Linked DNA regions of Homo sapiens: region 1 is linked to region 2. A link means that fine-mapping ties the variant in region 2 to the expression of a gene that starts in the linked region. Tissue or cell type: whole blood. Region 2 holds a variant in brackets; the other region holds the start of a gene. All regions are shown on one strand. Distances are from middle to middle.

Evidence for each region. PIP is the estimated chance that this variant, and not a neighbour inherited with it, causes the effect.
Region 1: it holds the start of AMIGO1, and the variant in region 2 is fine-mapped to the expression of AMIGO1 in whole blood (TOPMed, PIP above 0.99).

What each region holds. Positions count from the first base shown.
Region 1 is chr1:109,508,474-109,511,098 of GRCh38, forward strand. It overlaps AMIGO1 (adhesion molecule with Ig like domain 1), which reads right to left and starts at 1,254. Exons shown (of 2, transcript NM_020703.4): 1 at 947-1,254; 2 at 1-526. The coding sequence starts at 439. LOC105378893 (a long non-coding RNA gene) reads right to left here. Exons shown (of 3, transcript XR_001738179.2): 3 at 2,129-2,168. RefSeq lists silencers at 858-917, 928-1,077, 1,138-1,257.
Region 2 is chr1:109,310,467-109,313,224 of GRCh38, forward strand. SORT1 (sortilin 1) reads right to left here. Exons shown (of 20, transcript NM_002959.7): 20 at 1-2,758. Among named protein-coding and RNA genes, the nearest start is that of MYBPHL, 4.8 kb to the left of the region's middle. The variant C/T (reference allele first, on the strand shown) is at 1,069.

The DNA of each region.
Region 1 (2,625 bases), 200 kb after region 2:
TGATGTGGTTATTGTAGAGCAGCAGCACCTCCAGTACTTGCAGGTCACTGAACAGGAACTCATCCAGTGTACGCAGCTGGTTGGAGGAGAGGTCCAGGTAGCGCAGGTTGGGTACCGGGGAAAAGGCCTCAGAGGAGATGAAGTTCAGGTGGTTGTGGCTCAGCAGCAGGGAGTGCAGTTGGGTCAGGCGCGTGGGGGTCCACTCGGCCCGCAGGCGGCTCAGGTTGTTGTGACTGAGGTCCAGTAGTGCTGTGTAACTGGGCAAGGAATGGGGCACATTGGGCAGCTGCTGCTTGGAGCAGCTGAGGATGTTGCTGGCGCACAAGCAGGCGGCAGGACAGCTAACCACGGCTCGGCCAGCTCTGGCCACCTCAAAAAGCAGCAGGGACAAGGACGGCAGCAGGAGCCAGAGGCCTCTCGGGTCACGGTGGGGGTGCATAGTGTCACTGGAGTGGGCGAGGAAGGCCACAAGGAAGATCTGGGAGGAGGTCACCCGGGCATGTTCTGGTGGGGTACGGAAGGGTCACTTGAGAGAAAGAGGATGGGTTTGTGGTCACCAAGGACTCCAGAGGGAAGGACACCCTCTCCCACTTCCCCTCCCACCCTTACCTCCACCCCCTTTGGGCTAGGAGAGAGAGATGCTGGGTAGTTTCCAGGCACTGTGCAGGCAGTGGGCTGTAAATATCGGCCGAAGAGGAGGTGGCCCGAGGGCCTACTGGGCTGGGGTCACAGGGGTGCAGGCTGCAGGTATGCACAGGATGGCAGGGACTGCTGGGAGTCACAGGGATGGCACGGGCAGGGTTTGGAGGTGGGGTCGGTGTGCCTTTTGGGAGGAGCTGAGGGAAGGTCAACAGGGCACCGGGCTGGGTAGGACGCGTCCGGTCGGGGTTGAGGGTCCCCGGGGCCTGTAGGGGCGGGCTCCCCCCGGGGCCTCCGGTCACTGCACCTGCTCGGCGAGGACGTGTCTCAGCCCATGGCCGGTCTGGGAGCTCCGTCGCGGCCTCTCCCGGCGGCGCCTCACCGGCCGGCCTGTCACTGCGCCCACCTTACGCAGGGGCCCGCGCCCGGCACCGTCGCCTCCCGGGGACTTGCGGGGCCCCGCTCCGCTCACCCTGCCACCGCCTCGACCGCTGAGCCCGCCGGAGCCCACCGACCGCGGTCGCTGCCTCCAGGTCCGCAGGCCTGGCGCGGATCGGTGCGGGGAGCCGGAGGCGCAGCGATCCCAGCGGAGGGAGCGGCGTGGGGGCAGCGAGCACCGCGCGCGCGCCCGTCGCCGCCGCCGGAGCCTCGGGGCGCGTGCGCGCGGCGGGGGCGGGGCGCACGTGCGTGTGTTTGTGTCGGAGCCGGCCGGGCGGACGCGCGCGGGGTCGTTCCCTCAACCAGCGAGCTCCGGACGCTGAGCTAAAGACGAAAATTGGCAGGAAGAGCGGCACTGGCCCCTTAGGCTCCGCTATAACTTCCTCCATCCCCCATTCCCCCATCTCCCAGCACCCTTCTCGCTACACAGACCGGCTCTCAGGAAAAGTCTAACTAAAGTGAATTCGCTGCACCTACTCGGGCAAGAGGCGTCACATGTCTTTTAATTTCGCAAATTGAAGAAATCTGGCTCAGCTCCCGCCTGCCAATGTTGGCGGGAAATTCATTAGTCACATTCTGAGGTTCCCCCTCCCTTCTCTCTGTGGCTGTGGGGTCTCAAAAATTGGGGGAGGGGTTCCCCCCACCCCACCCCCGTCTTGATGCTACTAGTTCATGACCCTTGAGGTACCACTGAAGGGCACAGCTCCTTAGCCTGCAAGCCAGCTGCGCAGGAGTGAGGGGAAAGGGGGTGTTTGGTGAGCCCAGGCCCCAGAACACCCCTTTACAGACACCTCATGCACCTCTCCCCACTCCACCTGCTACACACACACACACACACACACACACACACACACACACACACACGGACTGCATACAAGCCAGGGACAATTTCCATTCCTGGAAACTCCGAAACCCTTCCCAGCCCGGAGGAAGTCATTCAGCCCTTAGGTCTGGCCACTTGCCTTCTTCCTAAACCAGTGCCAGCTCCCCACTCCCCTTATGGAGCAATTGCAACATAGTTTCTCTGTTACCTAATCCTCAAGATGAAGGCCAGTGGTGGAGGTGGAGGGGTTTCTTCTTTAGGGTGGCCCCTGAAACAACAAGAAGCTGTTACTAGTGTATGTTGTTTGGGTTTGGGGGTGAGGAAAGAGAGAGATGCAGGAAGAGCCTAGACCTTATCATTCAAGATGTTAGCTGTTCTTGAGATGGTGGACCATAAGAAATTACCTTTTTATTTGTTCCAGTCTCTTATAACAGCAAGATCAAGACTGAAATTAATGTCTCAGTAGATTAGCTTGCTAAGAGTTTTAAAAAGAATTTATATCTGTCACATGTTTTACCATGAATTTTAGTGAATATATTATCTCTTCAAGGAGTATTAGCGTGTTAATCTTATGCATAGTGTGAAAAGGTCTTTCTGCAAGGTGCAGTGGCTCACACCTGTAATCCCAGCACTTTGGGAGGCTGCGGCAGGAGGATTGCTTGAACCCAGGAGTTCGAGAGCAGCCTGGGCAACATGGTGAGACTCTGTCTCTTAAAAAAAAAAAA
Region 2 (2,758 bases):
CCTCCCTGTCACTTCATCACACAGCAAATCTTAAAACTTTGGTTTTTTCAAAGAACATTTAAGTCCATGTTCATTTTCCTGCTTCAGGGAAGATGGTAGCAAAGTTGAAAGCCGAATCCCTTCCTATTTTAGCACTTCCAAGTATCCTGGATGAATATAGGGGCGAGGGGCTACACTGACAATGAGCAGGATGCACTCTAGGTCATTGTGGACAGGCACGGAGCTCTTGAGAGCACTGCTCAAAGGAAAGAGGGAATCTCTATCTGGATGGTTGGCCTGGAAACTAAATAATGACTAATGCCAGGCCAGCCCCGTTACCCTGGGGTGGGTATGGATGGCCCTGGGCTCCCCTCCGTATCCTGGTATCGTGACGAAGGCCATGAGAACCAGCTCTGGTTTACAGACTCGATGCAGGAGCTGGAGGTGGCCAGCACATTACCAGCCTGTCAAGGATGAAAGACCACCTTGGGCATGGAGAGGCCCAGAGGCAAGCATCAGAGCAAGAGAGAGGAGGTGGGAAGTCCATTCAGAGGCAGACGTAGATTCTACGTTCCAGTTACGGCTGATCTATGGACTCTCCTGAGCCCGCCCCCAGAACTGCCGCAACTCTCCAAAGGCTTTTATTCTTTGAAATAGAGTTGCCATTGAATTAAAAGCCTACAGGAGAGACGGGCCTGGTCTGTGGTCTCACTAAAGCCCAATGCCCAATTAGGTCCAGAGAAGAAAGAAGAGTGAGTTCCCTACCTGGATTTAAGAACTCGGACCACTTTGGACTGGTTTGTCCAATCTCTCTTATAATGCTAAATTCCATTGCTGAAGCCTCCAGAAATGATCTCTTCTGCTACATCAAGCCTGGGAGTTTACACAATGATACACTATGTTTTACCTTCAAAGATAATGCTCCTAACATGAGTAGGACAAATTAGAAATCTATTTTTTTAGAAGCTGTAACAGATTTGGGCTTTCTTACTCTCTGGCTGAGGGCACACATTTGTGAGTGAGCAGGTTGATAAAGAAAGCTAACTAGCCAATAATGAGAATGAGCCAGGCTGGCTGTCAGTCTTCAAA[C/T]CAACAGAGCTAGCCAGCCCGGGGTGGAAACCAGGATGGGGAGGGAGACCCATCAGTGGAGAGTCCACTCCTGCACTCTTGAGCAGTGACCCTCAATGAGGGGAGGGGCAGTTTCTGCAAACGTATTTAAAATTCCCATTACTTTTGTTTTCAGCCATGAAAGACAGGAAAATACAATTTTCTGTTCACCAAGGTGGCAAAAAGGTGCTAAATACTGCTAGGAAACAAATGCCACTGATCCCTGTCATAAAGAACAGCAAGTCATCTACAAGAAGGCAGCCTTGCTCAAAGTGGTTAGCACTCGCATGTGTAAAGATTTCCAAGAGTTCTGAAGACAGCCAGCCAGCACTGCTTATCACACACACGGGGACCCTGAACAACTGACTCCATCCCAAGAACATTGTGAGGTTCAAATGACATTATGTGAGTGAAGGTGCTCTGAAAATTTGCCAAGTTCCACAGAAATCCCAGATATCATTAAAAGCGAAGAGCCCTATCGTATATGGTTAGAGAAGAATATTGAGTTTCCTACGTCTTAAAATGAGTAAGAGGATTACCATGTATTGGTGCATCTGCCCACAGTGAGTACATGCTGGGAGAAAGGTGAGTGGTATAAACAGTTCTTTTCTGAGTACCAAATTCACTTTGGGCAGGAGGGAGGGTGGGGCAGAGGCTGACGTTTTCATTTGTGAGCTGGTGTATCTTCGGAATTATTTTTAATTTTAAAACCATGCAAAATGAATAAGCAAAAAGACTAGTGCACTCCAGCCCTAACCATATTATCTTCACAAAAACTGCCTCAACTTTATTTTCTAACTGAAGCTCCCTGACTCATTTCATTCTACTGCAGTTTTAACATCTCTAAAAGTCTCCATCCACTCTCTCCCCCACTTTCCACGCAGCTGTTAATCCATTCTGGGGAGGAGAGAACTTAGCCATCTGCTCACATTCTGACTAAAGTTAATTTGGCACTTCAAATAAAAAAAAAAAAAAACACACAAAACTGACTTTCTAGCCACAAAATAAACTAGTAGCAAATGGTATCTACCAAAGAATGTCCCAGTCATAATCATTGGGAGAAACTGTGACCCGCACAGTAGCTACATTAAGACCAAAAACTTTCCATACTATATTTCTATATAGCAAATATTCAAGCTGTATTAAAACTAATTATTGCAGCTTTCCATTACTATATGGCCACCCCAAAATCCACCCAACTACATTCTATAATTTATTTAATTTAGAGAGGTATCAAATGGAAAACTTCTTTTAATCCAAAATAAGAACTTAATGTATCACACAAAGCATCATCTAGACTGGAAGTGTGTTTTCAATTGGTTCCTCCAAAATTTTCGTGTCAACAAATTACTTGGCAAAGTCAGAAAAAAGGGGTGAGAAGGAAAGCCTGGTAATAAAATTCTAATTTTTTAAGTCTATAAATCTGAAAAAATCTCTAGTCCTGGTTCCATGTACAACAGCAACCTAAGAAGCAGCAGATAGGCAGCCATTGTCATGATTTAGCAACGAGCCACACGACAGTTAAGAAGGGAACATGGAAGACTGTGAGGTTCCGTCTTCGGGGGTTCACACTGTGTACCCGACAATCAACTCTAGGGAAGAGATCATTCAGCCTGGGCAGACTTCCAGCTAAGTTTGTACCCTGTCCTTGCGTAAGTCTACTGGCACACAC